Regions from separate parts of the Homo sapiens genome. Here region 1 is linked to region 2. A link means that fine-mapping ties the variant in region 2 to the plasma level of a protein whose gene starts in the linked region. Region 2 holds a variant in brackets. A gene starts in the other region. All regions are shown on their forward strands.

Region 1 (8,454 bases), not on the chromosome of region 2:
AAAGTTTAATAGCAAGACAACAAAATAGGAAACAGTTTCCAAGTACTTTAACTACATCCCAGAAGAGAGCTCAAGGATATTTATAGAAATACAACATATACCAACACCCAATAAGGTAAAATTCATAATATTAGGCAACCACATCAAAATTACTAGGGATGCAAAGAACAGTAGAATATAACTCATAATGAGAAAAGTCTAAATGACAGAAATGACATCAAAAACAGAATTAGCAGACAAAAATATTAAAAATGTAAAGTATTTTCCATATGTCCAAAAAACTAGAGAAAAGTTGTATTACATTTTAATATAACCATTGTGATTCATTTTCTGAGATGAAAATTAATCTTTGAAGCTTCCTAAATGGACTTTAAAATATTACCAAAATATTCATAATAAACACCATTATTCTGGAGACTTACCCTGTTTCTGAGATTTACTCTGTTTTTAAGCCTTGGGAAATGAGGAATGAGGAATGAAGTGATGCTTACAGATGAATTATCATAGAATTCAAGGACTGGATAGAAATAGATAAGGGTCAAGAAGAGGAGAAGAGATAGACTAGGTTGGCAGCAGTGTGGTGGCAGCACTTGAGGGTGTGGTATATTTCGAGGGTGTCAAAGGCACATTGTGCTTGGTAATAAAAACTGTTTACATTTTATCAGTGTCCTACTGATGAATACTTTCACATTTCTGATGTTGAAATAGCTTTCTTATGCCCTAATAAGCAATATATAATATTTTTTACTCACATATTGACTGGGTAATTCCTTGCAATAATTCCAAGTCTACACAGAGACCTGTGGTCCATCACATGGAACAATTGGGATAGTTGTACTGCAGCATTGGAACTTCTATTATGGGCCATGATGTCCTTATATTCTTTTGTTTTTGAAGTAATTTTAACACCTGGTTGTTCCAACTAAGAGAGGACATAGCATCCCAAATAGAGGCTTAAAGAGAAAACAGTGGATTTGACATGGGCCCATACTTTCTGTTATTGTCGGTTTGAGGAAGAAGAAAAGTAGAGGTGAAGAAGTTGCCTTCAGCAACTGGTAGCTACTGGTAGTTGAATCTCAGGCTGTGGTTCTACTTGGCACCTGACACTTGGAGAAGTGAAGACAGGGAGAGAAAGGTAATGGGAAGACTGGGCCCCCGGAATTGATACATAACACCAAGAAAGCAGTCAGTGAGGATTTCAGAAAGCCAGGAAAGATGGTCTATTATGAAGAGAACTTGCTGGAAACACTTGAACACTTCCCTGTTTCTGGTGAGATTTGATATCCAGAAACACATGTCTATTGAATTCAAGTTTCTCCTAATGCACATTGTAGCAATCAGAAAGAATTATAGTACTGCTATATTTCTATAAAAGATAGCAGAATCTACCTTTGACACTAATGCATGAAAATATATTTGTGTTTTAAAAAGGCAGCCTGCCAAATTTAATTCCTAAAATGAGTTAATTGCTATAGATGGTAAACAAAAAAGGATGGCTGGTTGTAGAAGGCCTTTATTGAGAATAGATGAGTTGTATTGTAGTACAATTCTTAGATCATGTCCACATAGAAAAAAATAAATTGATGATATAATTAACCCATTTTAACCTATATTATAATTCAATTTAATTAATTTATACTGATAAGATTTTTTTGAAAATCCTAGTCTAAGTAATTTTCTTCACTTTTCATATTGTCTGTTCCTTTTTATTTTTTGTAAGGATGTTTACTTTGCATTTTTTTTCTTGTATTAGGTAGAGATATCAGTTGAAAGATACCTTAAAATTTTGTGACACTGAATTTAATCAGCCAACCATTCCTAAGGAATTGATAGCATATTTACTATTTGGTTAGATGGATAGGCACTCTGGCATTAAATTAAGTCTCTAAAGTTGGCATTTTTTCTCCATTAGTTTGCCATCCTGCCCACTTACCTCTTGAATTTGAAAGATGTAAACAAAAGATTTCTAAAGATTAGAAAATTAATTTTTAAGATAATTAAGCTGTTTTGAAAATTAGAGTTTATTACAAAATATGTTATCATTTTATGTATTATTAATTTAACAATAAGTTTTATGACAGAAGATTTAAGTCAAAATAGTTGTACAATCAACAAGCAAATGATAATCATTTCCTTAAATGATTATCTGACTGATAAATGGACAATCAGTCAGACCATCAAACACCAGTTGATAACATAATCCATTTGGACAGGAACCACATTTCCAAAGGAGTTTTGATTTAGTCATTGGTGGTAAAACAAAAGATATCAGACTGTACCTTAAAAACAAAGAAACAAAACAAAACAAAAACTTGTCCAATTCAGTATACCTAATAGAGATAGGAATCAAATAGTAGTATATGTCATTAAACTTTTCCAACAAGATTCTGTGGTCACTTGAAGTAGAAAAACTTGGTTTTCCAATATAACTACTCAAATCAGTAAAAATAAATATTTTAAAGTTTTACTCTTATTTTAAAATTACTTGATTAGTTATCTGTATTTACATTAATATTTTTCAATCTTTGTTGATCCCTAATTATATTTCATATAATTTTATTAAGCTGTAGGCCACAAATTAACATTTCAAACTCAGCCAAATTTCAGGGACTATCCCTCTTTAGTTTAAGGATTAGATGAGATATGGACACTGTATATTGAAATAATCATGCACTAGAATGATAGATTTAAAATAATCTTTAAAATGTGTTAGGGAGATTTTGCCTCCCTAACACATTTTATTCAAAAGTTTTGCAGTATCTCTCAAAATTGTCACAACTTTCCCCCTTTCATGTAAATATTATGCTTTTACACATGAAATATGACTCTCTGGGCAGTATGTTTCCTGCTTGAGTTTTGCCCTTTGTGTTTATATTATCTCATGTTATACAAAGTCATTTTGTGACTAATTTCCAGAGCACTGAGTCACAGTGTGGCTGTTGCTTATCTTTTCTTTTTTCCCACATGGTAGTACTCTTGGCCCTTATTTTTGGTAATTATTTTATACTAATGAGTGCTTTTTCATAATTAAATAATTGTTTCTCTCATTATATTTCTGTGGTTGTTTACTGCTGTATTATATGCTTTCATTTTTCACTAGAAGCAAACATTTTATAACAGGAACATAACAGTACATCATGTAGGCATGTTATCTATTGTTTTAATTTACAAAATTGCACAACATAGACTTGATCGTAAGTATTCTCGTTTAAGTATCTCAGAATATGACCTTTGGTCTTTGGAGAATTGTAAAATATTTCCTTAGAGAGATTAGTTAATGCTGGCATAAAATATTCCATTTAGATTACGATTATTTTAATGGTTATACCTCATTTTAAATATCATCAACTAATAGTATTGAAAGATTATTTGAATAGAAGAATAACAGTCTCTATTTTATATGTTATGAAATAAAATGGAAAGGTAAACCGAACTTTCAAGAACTTCCAATTAACCAAGCACAATTAGTAAAGAATTCTACTACAATCTTCAAATTATAAAAAAGCTACATACACCAATTAGTTACAAAAATGTTTATGGTTTAAAATCATAAAAATTGCACATAAATTTGCTTAAGAACTAAATGCAAAATGCTGAGAACTCAAGTTTGGATTGCAGTTTGAGTTTACTCTGTTTACAGGGAAGGGCTGATTTTCATTTTACGCAAATAAACAGTGATCCTCCCCTATCAGTTCTTTGCCTCTCAGCACCCTGCTTTTCCCCCGAGAAAAAGAAATTAAAGTTATTTCTTATGGGCTAGACAGTATATTGCCAGGTACTCACAAGTAAAATCTCTGATGAAAGTTCTTGGAATGTTTTTTTCAAAACGGAGTTGAGGTTATTTTGTTTTTCCTTCCAGGTATTGAAGACAGGATTTATCTTCTCTACTTCTTCTTTTAGAAGCAGATCAAGAAACTGGCGATTGAAGAGTAACTGAAAGAAACGCAATCTGATCTTACTAGCAGTGAAAGAGCGAGGTAAGAATTTGACTATTATCCAGCCTAAAGTCGCTGCTGTCTGTTAGAGCAAAGAGGGAGCCTCAGAGTCGGCTTCAGAGATCACTGGCAGTTGGGAATAGCCCAACTTCCTGTTTAGGTCACTGCAACTCTGACTCTATTTAGTCTAAACCTCTTTTTTCTTTCTTTCTTTCTTTTTTTTAGTGGAGGAAACAGATGAAGGAAACAGCTTACACCAAGATTTCAGATACGATCATTTTGAATAGCTATTTCCTTTACTTTCCAGGATTGTTTTTGTAATCAGTTGAAAAAGAATGCTTTTTTCCCCCTAGAGTTAGGGTTTAAAAAATTACATATTTATTATTACACTGTTAATAAGCTTTTTTGCAGTTTGTTTCTTCTTCAAGTTATTTCATTTGTTTCACCCACTGTCAATGTATTTATTTTTTTTAAAAGTCTGAGGGCTACCGTTGGAGGTCTCTCTTAGTGAGACAATGTAATGCATTATCTATTGCAGGTGTCAGGCTTTGAGCCCTACCTTAGCTACTTGCTAACTTGGCTACTCAGCCCAGTTATTTGAATTCACTATGCCTCAGTTCCTTTGTTCCTAAAATGTCGATAATAAAAGTTTCTGGGCTTGATGTAAGTACTAAATGGCTTAATACATAAAAAGTACTTAAGGCAGGACCCAGCATGTAGCAAACCTCCAATAATTGTTGGCTATCATTATCGCTGTTTTCTGTATTTCTATTATTATTATTCTACAAAATATGTAAATATTTACAGATGTCAACCAGAGTCTCTGCTGTATGTCCCTATCATTGAGGTTCATCCGTACTGTCTCTGTATTGGAATTATGGTCATATCAGACTAAGATCACTAGAGATCTAATAAATGGGCAGAATCTACTTTGCCAGGAAGGCTGAAGACATTTGGTCAGAAAATGTAGGAGTTTCTTGCTTCTGCATCTCAGATTCTTTGTGCCTTCAATTTTTCTTGCTTTCCTTAGACCTCTCTGTAAAAGGTAACCTTTCATCTTGAGTGTTTTTAATACATATTGAATAATTATTTGGTGGTGACTGGAACATAAATTATCGATTTAATTCTCACAACTAGCTTATAAAGAAGGTCCTCTTTGTATGCCCATTTCACATGTCTAGGAAGATCGAGTTCAGTATGTGGAGCTGTGATTCTAATGTCATGCAGTCTGCCTTTAGAGCAAAAATGCATAAATCCTCCTCCATGCTGCCTTCTCACTCATGTTCTGGATTTCATATCATGTTAATAACTTATCTCCTATTACCTCATGCCCTGCCCCTCAACCACAATCAAAGCTATCATCTCACTCAGATTGTAGAGGAAAGTCCTTTTTTCTTGGTACCACCATGGACCTTGATTAAACTTTTGAGGAATCTGTAGCTCAGGTAGAGGCAAGCTCAGCCAATCAGATTTTCTTTCTTGAAAGTTTCGCCTCTCCTCCCTCTCCCTCTCCCTCTCCCTCTCCCTCTCCGTCTCCCTCTCCCTCTCCCTCTCACGGTCTCCCTCTCCCTCTCTTTCCACAGTCTCCCTCTGATGCCGAGCAGAAGCTAGACTGTACTGCTGCCATCTCAGCTCACTGCAACCTCCCTGCCTGATTCTCCTGCCTCAGCCTGCTGAGTGCCTGCAATTGCAGGCGCGCCGCCACGCCTGACTGGTTTTCGTATTTTTTTGGTGGAGACGGGGATTCGCTGTGTTGGCCGGGCTGGTCTCCAGCTCCTAACCGCGAGTGATCCACCAGCCTCGGCCTCCTGAGGTGCCGGGATTGCAGACGGAGTCTGGTTCACTCAGTGCTCAATGGCGCCCAGACTGGAGTGCAGTGGCGTGATCTCAGCTCGCTACAACCTCCACCTCCCAGCCGCCTCCCTTGGCCTCCCAAAGTGCAGAGATTGCAGCCTCTGCCCGGCCGCCACCCCGCCTGGGAAGTGAGGAGCGTCTCTGCCTGGCCGCCCATTGTCTGGGATGTGAGGAGCCCCTCTGCCTGGCTGCCCAGTCTGGAAAGTGAGGAGTGTCTCTGCCTGGCCGCCATCCCATCTAGGAAGTGAGGAGCGCCTCTTCCCGGCCGCCATCCCATCTAGGAAGTGAGGAGCCTCTCTGCCCAGCCGCCCATCGTCTGAGATGTGGGGAGCGCCTCTGCCCCGCCGCCCCGTCTGGGATGTGAGGAGCGCCTCTACCCCGCCGCGACCCCGTCTGGGAGGTGAGGAGCGTCTCTGCCCGGCGGCCCCGTCTGGGAAGTGAGGAGACCCTCCGCCCGGCAGCCGCCCCATCTGAGAAGTGAGGAGCCCCTCTGCCCAGCAGCCACCCTGTCTGGGAAGTGAGGAGCGTCTCTGCCCAGCAGCCACCCCGTCTGGGAGGGAGGTGGGGGGTCAGCCCCCCGCCCGGCCAGCCGCCCCGTCCGGGAGGTGAGGGGCGCCTCTGCCCGGCGGCCCCTACTGGGAAGTGAGGAGCCCCTCTGCCCGGCCAGCCGCCCCGTCTGGGAAGTGAGGAGCGTCTCCGCCCAGCAGCCACCCCGTCCGGGAGGGAGGTGGGGGGATCAGCCCCCCGCCCGGCCAGCCGCCCAGTCCGGGAGGGAGGTGGGGGGGTCAGCCCCCCGCCCGGCCAGCCGCCCCGTCCGGGAGGTGAGGGGTGCCTCTGCCCGGCCGCCCCTACTGGGAAGTGAGGAGCCCCTCTGCCCGGCCAGCCGCCCGGTCCGGGAGGGAGGTGGGGGGGTCAGCCCCCTGCCTGGCAAGCCGCCCCGTCTGGGAGGGAGGTGGGGGGATCAGCCCCCCGCCGGGCCAGCCACCCCGTCCGGGAGGTGAGGGGTGCCTCTGCCCGGCCGCCCCTACTGGGAAGTGAGGAGCCCCTCTGCCCGGCCAGCCGCCCCATCCGGGAGTGAGGTGGGGGGGTCAGCCCCCTGCCCGGCCAGCCGCCCCGTCCGGGAGGTGAGGGGCGCCTCTGCCCGGCCGCCCCTACTGGGAAGTGAGGAGCCCCTCTGCCCGGCCACCACCCCGTCTGGGAGGTGTACCCAACAGCTCATTGAGAACGGGCCATGATGACAATGGCGGTTTTGTGGAATAGAAAGCGGGGAAAGGTGGGGAAAAGATTGAGAAATCGGATGGTTGCCGTGTCTGTGTAGAAAGAGGTAGACATGGGAGACTTTTCATTTTGTTCTGTACTAAGAAAAATTCTTATCCTGTTGATCTGTGACCTTACCCCCAACCCCGTGCTCTCTGAAACATGTGCTGTGTCCACTCAGGGCTAAATGGATTAAGGGCGGTGCAAGATGTGCTTTGTTAAACAGATGCTTGAAGGCAGCATGCTCGTTGAGAGTCATCACCACTCCCTAATCTCAAGTAACCAGGGACACAAACACTGTGGAAGGCCGCAGGGTCCTCTGCCTAGGAAAACCAGAGACCTTTGTTCACTTGTTTATCTGCTGACCTTCCCTCCACTATTGTCCTATGACCCTGCCAAATCCCCCTCTGCGAGAAACACCCAAGAATGATCAATAAAAAAATAAAATAAAATAAAATAAAATAAAATAAATAAAGTTTCATGCGCATCCGTGTGAAGAGACCACCAAACAGGCTTTGTGTGAGCAGCATGGCTGTTTATTTCACCTGGGTGCAGGCGGGCTGAGTCCGAAAAGAGAGTCAGCCAAGGGAGATAAGGGTGGGGCTGTTTTATAGGATTTGGGTAGGTAAAGGAAAATTACAGTCAAAGGGGGTTTGTTCTCTGGCGGGCAGGAGTGGGGGCCGCAAGGTGCTCAGTGGGGGTGCTTTGAGCCAGGATGAGCCAGGAAAAGGAGTTTCACAAGGTAATGTCATCAGTTAAGGCAAGGACCGGCCATTTACACTTCTTTTGTGGTGGAATGTCATCATTAAGGTGGTGCAGGGCATATTCACTTCTTTTGTGATTCTTCAGTTACTTCAGGCCATCTGGGCATATACGTGCAGGTCACAGGGGATGCATGGCTTGGCTTGGGCTCAGAGGCCTGACACTCCTGCCTTCTTATATTAATAAGAAAAATAAAACAAAATAGTGTTGAAGTGTTGGGGCAGTGAAAATTTTTGGGGGGTGATATGGCGAGAGAATGGGTGATGTTTATCAGGGCTGCTTCAAGCGGGATTAGGGGCGGCGTGGGAACCTAGAGTGGGAGAGATTAAGCTGAAGGGAGGTCTTGTGGTAAGGGGTGATATTGTGGGGATGTTAGAAGAAACATTTGTCGTATAGAATGATTGGTGATGGCCTGGATACGGTTTTGGATGAATTGAGAAACTAAATGGAAGATACAAGGTCTGAATAAAAGAAGGAGAAAAATGGGTATTAAAGGACTAAGAATTGGGAGGACCCAGGACATCCAATTAGAGAGTGCCCAAGGGGGTTCAGCGTAATTACTTGCTTGGTTGGCAAGTTTTGGGGCTCTATCCTTGAGTTTTTTTATGTTGTCATACACCAGGCCAGATTGATTTAGGTAAAAACA
Region 2 (8,454 bases):
TACGATTATATTGATAGATATGAGAGTCTCTATGATTCTACAGATTTTTTTATTTATGTAGTCATACACTATATAACAGCATTTCAGTCAATGACAGACCACATATATAACAGAGGTCTCATAAGATGATAATGAGCTGAAAAATTTATATTGCCTAGTGACACTGTAGCTGCCTTCATGTCTTAGCAAAACTTGTTACATACATGTTTGCGGTGCTGCTGGTGTAAATAAACCTATTGTGTTGCCAGTCCTATAAAAGTGTAACATGTACTGTTATGTATAGTAACTAATAGTTGATAATAAATGACTATGTTACTGGCTTATGTATTTGCTATACTATAGTTTTGTTATTATTTTAGAATGTACTCCTTTCATAATAGGGAAAAAAATAAACAGTAAAACAGCCTCAGGCAGGTCCTTCAGAACGTATTTCAAAAAAATGACATTATTATCATAAAACATGATATCTTCATGCATGTTATTGTCCCTAAAGAACTTCCAATGGCACAATATATAAAAGTGGAAGACAGTGATATTGATGATTCTGACCCTGTGTAGGCCTAAGCTAATGCGTGTCTTTTTTAACAAAAACATTTAAAAAGTAGAAAATAAATAATTTTTAAAGTAGAAAAAAAATATAGAACAAGGTTATTAAGAAAGAATATTTTTGGGTCAAATGATATTTCTAGTTCTAGATCCCTAAGGAATCACCACACTGACTTCCACAATGGTCGAACTAGTTTACAGTCCCATCAACAGTATAAAAGTGTTCCTATTTCTCCACATCCTCTCCAGCACCTGTTTACCAAAGGATTTTAAATCACGCTGCTGTAAAGACACATGAACACGTATGTTTATTGCCACACTATTCACAATAGCAAAGACTTAGAACCAACCCAAATGTCCAACAATGATAGACTGGATTAAGAAAATGTGGCACATATACACCATGGAATACTATGCAGCCATAAAAAATGATGACTTCATGTCCTTTGTAGGGACATGGATGAAGCTGGAAACCATCATTCTCAGCAAACTATCACAAGGACAAAAAACCAAATACCGTATGTTCTCACTCATAGGTGGGAATTGAACAATGAGAACACATGGACAAAGGAAGGGGAACATCACACACCAGATCCTGTTATGGGGTGGGGGGGAGGGGGGAGGGATAGCATTAGGAGATATACCTAATGTTAAATGACGAGTTAATGGGTGCAGCACACCAATATGGCACATGTATACATATGTAACTAATCTGCATGTTGTGCACATGTACCCTAAAACTTAAAAGTATAATAAAAAAAAAAGATCCAAGTAAATGGAGGTATATATGTTCATACAGTCTGATGACTCAGTATTGCTAAGATACCAAATCTTCCCTAAATTGATCTAAATGTTAAACACATTCCCAATAAAAATCCCAGCGGAATTCTTTGTAGAAATTGAAAAGTTGATTCTAAAATTTATATGAAACGTTAAATGACCTATAATAGCCAGAACAATGTTTACAAGTAGAACAAGATTGGAGGATTTCACAGCTGATTTTCAAACTTATAAAGCTACAATATCAAGACAATCTACTTTTAGTGAAAAGATAAACATATAGATCAAAGGAATGAAATAGAGTCCAGAATTAAGCCCACACATTTATGGTCAACTGAGTTTTTACAAAGATGTCAAGATAATACAATAAAAAGAACAAGTCTTTTCAACAAATGGTACATTGGATTATCTTATTTGTTTTTCCTGTCATAAATGACAGGATTTTCCTTTTTTAAGGCTGTATAGTATACCATGAATATATACCACATTTTCTACCCCCTGGAAGTAACTATACATTTTATTATTTTTATTAGTTTAATTGACACATACCTATTTATGGGCTACAGTCTGATGTTTCAATACATATATACACTGAGTAATGATCAAATCATGGTAATTAGCATATCCATTACCTCAAACATTTATCATTTCTTTGAAGTTAGAACACTCAAAATCCTCTATTCTATAATAGTTATTTTGAAATATACGTTATTCTTAACTACACTCTACTGTTCAATAAAACACCAGAACTTATTCTTCCTATCTAATTGTAACTTTGTACCCATTGACCAACCTCTCCTCAACTTCTCCTCCTTACTACTGCCCTAACCATCTCTGGTAATCACTGTTATACTCTCTGCTTCTATGAGATCAGCTTTTTTACATTCCACGTGAATGAGATAATGCAGTATTTGTCTTTCTGTGCCTGGCTTATTTCACTAAACATAATGCCCTCCAGATTTATCCATATTGTCACAAATGACAGGATTTTATTCTTTCTAATGGCTGACAAGTATTCCACTGTATATATATATTTCACATTTTCTTTATCTATTCATCCACTATGGACATTTAAGTTGATTCATGGGAGTGCAGATAGGTCTTTGACATACTGATTTCATTTCCTTTGGATATATACCCAGTAGTAGGATTGCTGGATAGTTGTTTTAGTCTCAATTTTTTGAGTAACCTCCATATTGTTTACTATGATTGTACTAATTTAAATTCCTACCAACCGTGTGCAAGATTCCCTTTTCTCCACATCCTCTCCATCACTTGTTATCTCTCCTCTTTCAATAATAGCCATTCTTCCAGGTGTGAGGTGATATCTCATTGGGGTTTTAATTTGCATTTTTCTGATGATTCATGATGTTGAGCATTTTTTAGTATACCTGTTGGTCACTTGTGTGTCTTCTTTTGAGAAATGTCTATTCACATCCTTTGCCCATCCTTTAAATCTTGTTATTTGTTTTCTTACTATTGAGTTGTTTGAGCTCCTTATATATTAGGTATGTTAACTCCTTATCTGATGTATGGTTTGCAAATATTTTCTCCCATTTTGTGGATTGTCCCTTCAATCTTGTTTTCTTTGCTGTGCAGGAGCTTTTTAGTTTGATGCTATAGTTTGATCCATTAGCCTATTTTTGCTTTTATTGCCTGTGCTTTCAAGGTCATATAAAAAACATCATTACTCAAATCAGTGCTATTGATCTTTCCCACTGTATTTTCTTTTGTTAGTTTTACAATTTCAGTTCTATGTTTAAGTCTTTAATCCATTTTGAGGTGACTTTTGTATACAGTGTGAGATAAGGCTCTAATTTCATTTTTCTGCATCTGGATATCAGATTGTCCCAACACCATTTGTTGAAGAGACTGTCCTTTTTCCATTGTATATTCTTGATACTTTTGTTGCAAATCAGTGGACGGTAACTGTGTGGATTTATTTCTGGGCACTCTATTCTACTCCATTGGTCTACATGTATTTTATGCCAGTACCATGCTGTTTTGATTATTATAGCTTTGAAGTATATTTTGAAGCCAGGTAGTATGATGTCTTCAGCTTTATTTTTTTGTTTGTATGTTTTGTTGTATTTATTTACTTTGCTCAATATTGCTTTGGGTATTTGGGGTGTTTTGTGGTTCCATGCAAATTTTAGGAAAATTTTTTATATTTCTGTAAAAAATTCATGAAATTTTGATAGGAATTGTATTGAATTTGTATATTGCTTTGGGTAATATGGACATTTTAAACAGTATTAATTTTTCCAAGCTATGAACATAAAACATATTTGTTTAAAAAAAGAATATTTTTGTTGTACAACTGTATAATGTGTTTTGTTTTAAGGTAAACATTATTTAAAAAGAGCTAAAACATTAAAAAAAGAAGTTTAAAAATGTTACACTAAGCTAAAACTAATTTATCATTAAAGAAACTTTTTAAAAATTAATTTAGTATATCCTAAGTCTACAGTGTTTATAAAGTCTACAGTAGTATAGAGTAATGCCTAAACCTTCACATTCTTTCACTGACTCACCCAGAATAACTTCCAGTCCTGCAAGCTCCATTCATAGAAAGTGCCCTATACAGGTGTATCATTTTTGTCTTTTTGTCTTTTATACTGTATTTTTCCTGTACTTTTTATGTTTGGTTACAAAAATTCTCACCATTGCATTATAATTACCTAGAGTATTCAGTATAGTAACATGCTATATAGGTTTGTAGCCTGGGAGCAGTGGGCTATACCACGTAGTTTATATGTGTAGTAGGCTATGTCAAGTAGGTTTGTGTAAGTACATTCTATAATGTTTACACAACAACAAAATTACCTGACAACACATTTTGAGAACACATCCCATTTTTATTGTTGTTAAGCAATTCATGACTATATTAACAAAGCCAACATCATTTATACATTTAAGTGACACATGTATAAATGATTTGCTGTCATGTTTCTTAAACTATGTATCTGTGGGTTGGGTGACTGTGTGCTGTTGTTAATCAAGTCACACATTAAACATGCAACACCTTATAGATGGAGGGGACTAATTTTTTTATTAAAATAAGAAACCCAATATAATTCTATTTTTAGCATAAAATAAGAAATGTGGCCAGGCACAGTGACTCATGCCTGTAATCCCAGTACTTTGAGAGGCTGAGGCGGGTGGATTGCTTCAGCCCAGGAATTCAAGACCAGCCTGGGCAACATGGAAAACCCCCATCTCAACCAAAAAAATTACAAAAACTAGCCAGAAATGGTGACACGCACCTGTAGTCCCAGCTAGTTGTGGGGCTGAGGTGGGGGGGTCACTTGGGCCTA[G/T]ATAGGTTGACCCTGCAGTGAGCCATGACTATGCCACTGCACTCCAGCCTGGGTGACAGAGTGAGACCCTGCCTCAAAAAAACAAAAAAGAAAAAAAGAAATGCTCTTGCAGAAGTTTTAGATCATACTCTAATCCCTAGTTTATATAATCATATTTTCAGCTGGGCTTGATACTTTGGAAGGAAGGTTTAATAAGCAATAAAATACTGTGTTAAAGATCACAAAGGCATTTGTGTTCACCAGACATCTACATTTCCCAGAATATAAGATAGTGTCTGGCTTGGTCTCTAATCTTCTCTTCAAACTGTAATTTCTATATATTATCATATCTATTCTTTTCCATTTCTTCTCTCCTCCACTTTGAGGGAAGGGGTAATGAGAATAAAGTGGCCAAAGGTAACCTAAGGAGAAAAAGTAGAGGCAATCATGGCCAAAGCTTTATGATATATATAGTGTTTGTATAAGACATGATTTTACTTGAGATAAAAATTCTTAATTATATTCAGTGATCTGTTATCAGTAGCATGTGTGCTGCATAGTAAGCTTCAAGCGCAACCTTCAATACTGCTTTGTGTGATGCTGGGGCTGGACATCTATAAACCATATTTCTGCTTTACCCAGCTGTCTCCCTGTTGTACATTGAGAATAGGTGCTGCTAGAGGGAGTTTGGAGGACTGGGGGAGGACAAAAGCTACTCTGTTCCCTGTCTGCTTCCTATTCTTGTCCCAGCGGCCATTGCAAGAAACTTTTTTCCCACCAGTGACACTTCTCCTGTGAGCACAGTTAACTCTAATTCATAGTTTTCCAGCATTCATATTGTTTTGATTTAAATCATTGAATCAGGCATTATTTTTTTAAATTATTTACTAAGTGCCTTGGTTGTTATCACAAACAATACCAGCATATTTTTACTTGTTTTTTCTCTCTCTAATTTGAGCTCTGTCAGAAATCTCGAGTGCAATCATACCATCTCTCAGCTATTCCCCAAGTATTCTAAATGGGTTGAGTACTCTTTTGTCTTTACTAAAGAGTATCCAATGATTAAAATAAAATTTGTCTCAACACCACAAGCCATGAGACCAGGAGATATGTCAAATCCTGTTTAAACATGTCCATATAGATATCATTGGATGACGTAATTGATTTGGACTTGCAATTTAAAAAAAAATCCTTTGAAAGCTTCTATGGGATTAGAATAATTTTTTTCATTTTTCTCCACAGATGCAGCATAAAATATACCAGAAACCTAAACCACCGAATCTTTCACATCTGTTTTTCCTACTTTAAACATCAAAGACTTCAATTTTTTTTTTCTTTTTCGTTTCTGTTCTCTGTATAATACTGTAAAGAGCAGTGTGTAAATGTCATTGACTAAGGTTGATAAAGTAAGCACTGATAATAAACTTTTCTGTATTCTCAGAATTCATATTTTAATTTTTCATACAACTAATGAAACAACAACTAATGGAACAACATTTTATAAGAAATAAATATCTACAAGATAAATTTTTAAATATTTTAAAAAATATTAATTTCGAAGATTTTAAATCTAGCAGAAAGGTAGAAAAATAATAAGTTTCATATACCCATTGTGATGGTTAATTTTATGTGTGAACTTGGCTGGGCCACAGTGTCTAGATATGTGGTCAAACATTATTCTGGATGTTTCTGTAAGCAAGTTTTTGGATGAGATTAATGCTTAAATCCATGAACTTTGAGTAAAGCAGATTGTCCTCCATGATGTGGGTGGGCCTCATACAATCATTTGAAAACTTGAAATGAACAAAAGACTGAGCTTTCCCCAGCAAATGGCCTTCAGACTTCACCTGAACACTGGCCCTTCTCTGGTCCACCCCGCGTATTTTGGACTGGCTGGTAAAGTCTCCATAATCATTTTAGGCAATTCTTTAAAACAAAATTATCTTAATATAAATCTCTCTCTCTCTCAGTCTATATATATATATACACACACACACACATAAATATGTGTATATATATGTACATATATATACACACACATAGATATGTGTATATATACACACACGTATGTGTGCATATGTGTATATATGTATATATAGGTGTATATATACGTATATATGTATATATAGGTGTATATATACGTATATATGTATATATACACACATACATTCGTTTGGTTCTGTTTCTCTGGAGAACCCTGAGTAATACATTCATCATCACAATTAACAACTGGCAATTACTATATTATTTAATCTATTTTTGTGTTATAATTTGGAGTAAATATAGACATCATGATATTTAAGCCCTAAATACAACACCACATCACTATTTGTAATCCTTAAAGATAATGTTTTCCTGTATAAGAAAACACCATTATTGCACTTAACAAACTTAATTTTTTGTACCATTTAATACTCATTTCATCTTGAAATTCTCTCAAAATTCAAAAGAAGTCTTGAAGCCAATTAGAACAAACATTGTGCTGGAGTGTGATGCAACATAATACTTTATAGGTGATGCTATGTACCTCATACTGCATCACAATAAGACATACATCACATCTGCAATATTAGTGATGCTAACATTGGATTCTCAGTTGATGGGGTGACAGCTTTATCCCTTCTCTATAAAAGTATATCTTTTTCCCTTGGTGACCAACAAGTAATATTTGTGATGATATTTTTACATCTCATGAATATCTGTAGCAATCTTTCACCTAATAGTATTTATCACTTGTTAATGATTATTGCCACAATCAAATATTTTATTAGAAGTTGCAAACAAAGTTAGCAAAATATATAATAATAATTTATTATAGAATTACAAAAGGGCCAGTTTTACTCCCCATATCTTCCTAATTTGTTCAACTCTAAACACACTGGCATGAAATTTTAAGATGTCATAGCTAGGGAATTACTCTAGGATAAAACAGAACCTCCTTTAAGATTTAGTTTGTGTAGTATGAAGAAAGTCTAGTAATAAGAATATTGATGTTCAGAATTCCCAACCCCCATATCACATTTTTTTAAATTACTAAGATACATTATATGAAATTTTCTGATTTAACGAGGAACGGATAATGGATAAATTATGCTTGGCAGTGCAAACCAAAGATCTAATAGCTTGAATTATTTTTACAAAGACCTCATCAAATGACATTTAATGTATGTAACCAGCTAACTTAACACTGTTTTTACTTATTGTCATGCATTTTTGCAGAATTTTGTAAAGTTTTAACCTTTTCTTTTCCCATGTGTTTCTCATATTCACTTATAATCAGAGGCTCTAAAACTCTGAGTTTTACTTCTTTGGTGTTAGATTTTCTTCACCTTTTTCCTACCACTGCATATCTTCTGCATATGTAAATTTACTTTCAACGTTACTATGTCTGTGAAGAAGGAACACCCATTGAGCAAGAATGGAAAATATATTAAACATAAGGGATATAGGGAATTTAGAAATTAACATTCTGATAGAGACAGAAGATGCTGGAGCAATACTGGAAAAAAGCCAGTTCTGTCAAAGTTTTTGGTCTGCACTAGTAGATGGTAGAGGTTTAACTAAGATCCCAATAGACGTTTGAACTCAGGATACTTATTCAAACTCAATGTGAACCCTTTGAGGCTGACTCATTGCTAATATTTTTCCATTTCAGGGTAAGATTTCCCACTGACACTAACCAACACAACCTCAATGTGGGTAAGTGGAATAGGAAGTTCCAGATCACTGAACTCTTGTAAAATGACTTATTTATTGTTTTTACTTAATTCCTCAGACATGCTTTGTGGGTTTTTTATTATTATTATTAGATTTTTTAAGTTCTATTTTCCAT

Which allele goes with the higher level. Alleles are on the strand shown, and positions count from the first base shown. The strength of an association depends on the size of the effect and on how common the allele is.
With allele T in place of G in region 2, the plasma level of the protein whose gene starts at base 4,019 in region 1 is lower (weak association).

What was found. PIP is the posterior inclusion probability: the model's chance that the variant is causal. The UK Biobank Pharma Proteomics Project read protein levels with antibody pairs (Olink). The fine-mapping took linkage between variants from a reference panel, not from the people measured, so its PIPs are less certain.
Region 1: it holds the start of TFPI, and the variant in region 2 is fine-mapped to the plasma level of the TFPI protein (UK Biobank, PIP 0.97).

Annotation. Positions count from the first base shown.
Region 1 is chr2:187,550,417-187,558,870 of GRCh38, forward strand. It overlaps TFPI (tissue factor pathway inhibitor), which reads right to left and starts at 4,019. Exons shown (of 8, transcript NM_006287.6): 1 at 3,784-4,019. RefSeq lists enhancers at 7,061-7,645, 7,646-8,228.
Region 2 is chr3:90,124,120-90,132,573 of GRCh38, forward strand. No RefSeq gene overlaps it. Among named protein-coding and RNA genes, the nearest start is that of EPHA3, 1.0 Mb to the left of the region's middle. The variant G/T (reference allele first, on the strand shown) is at 4,644.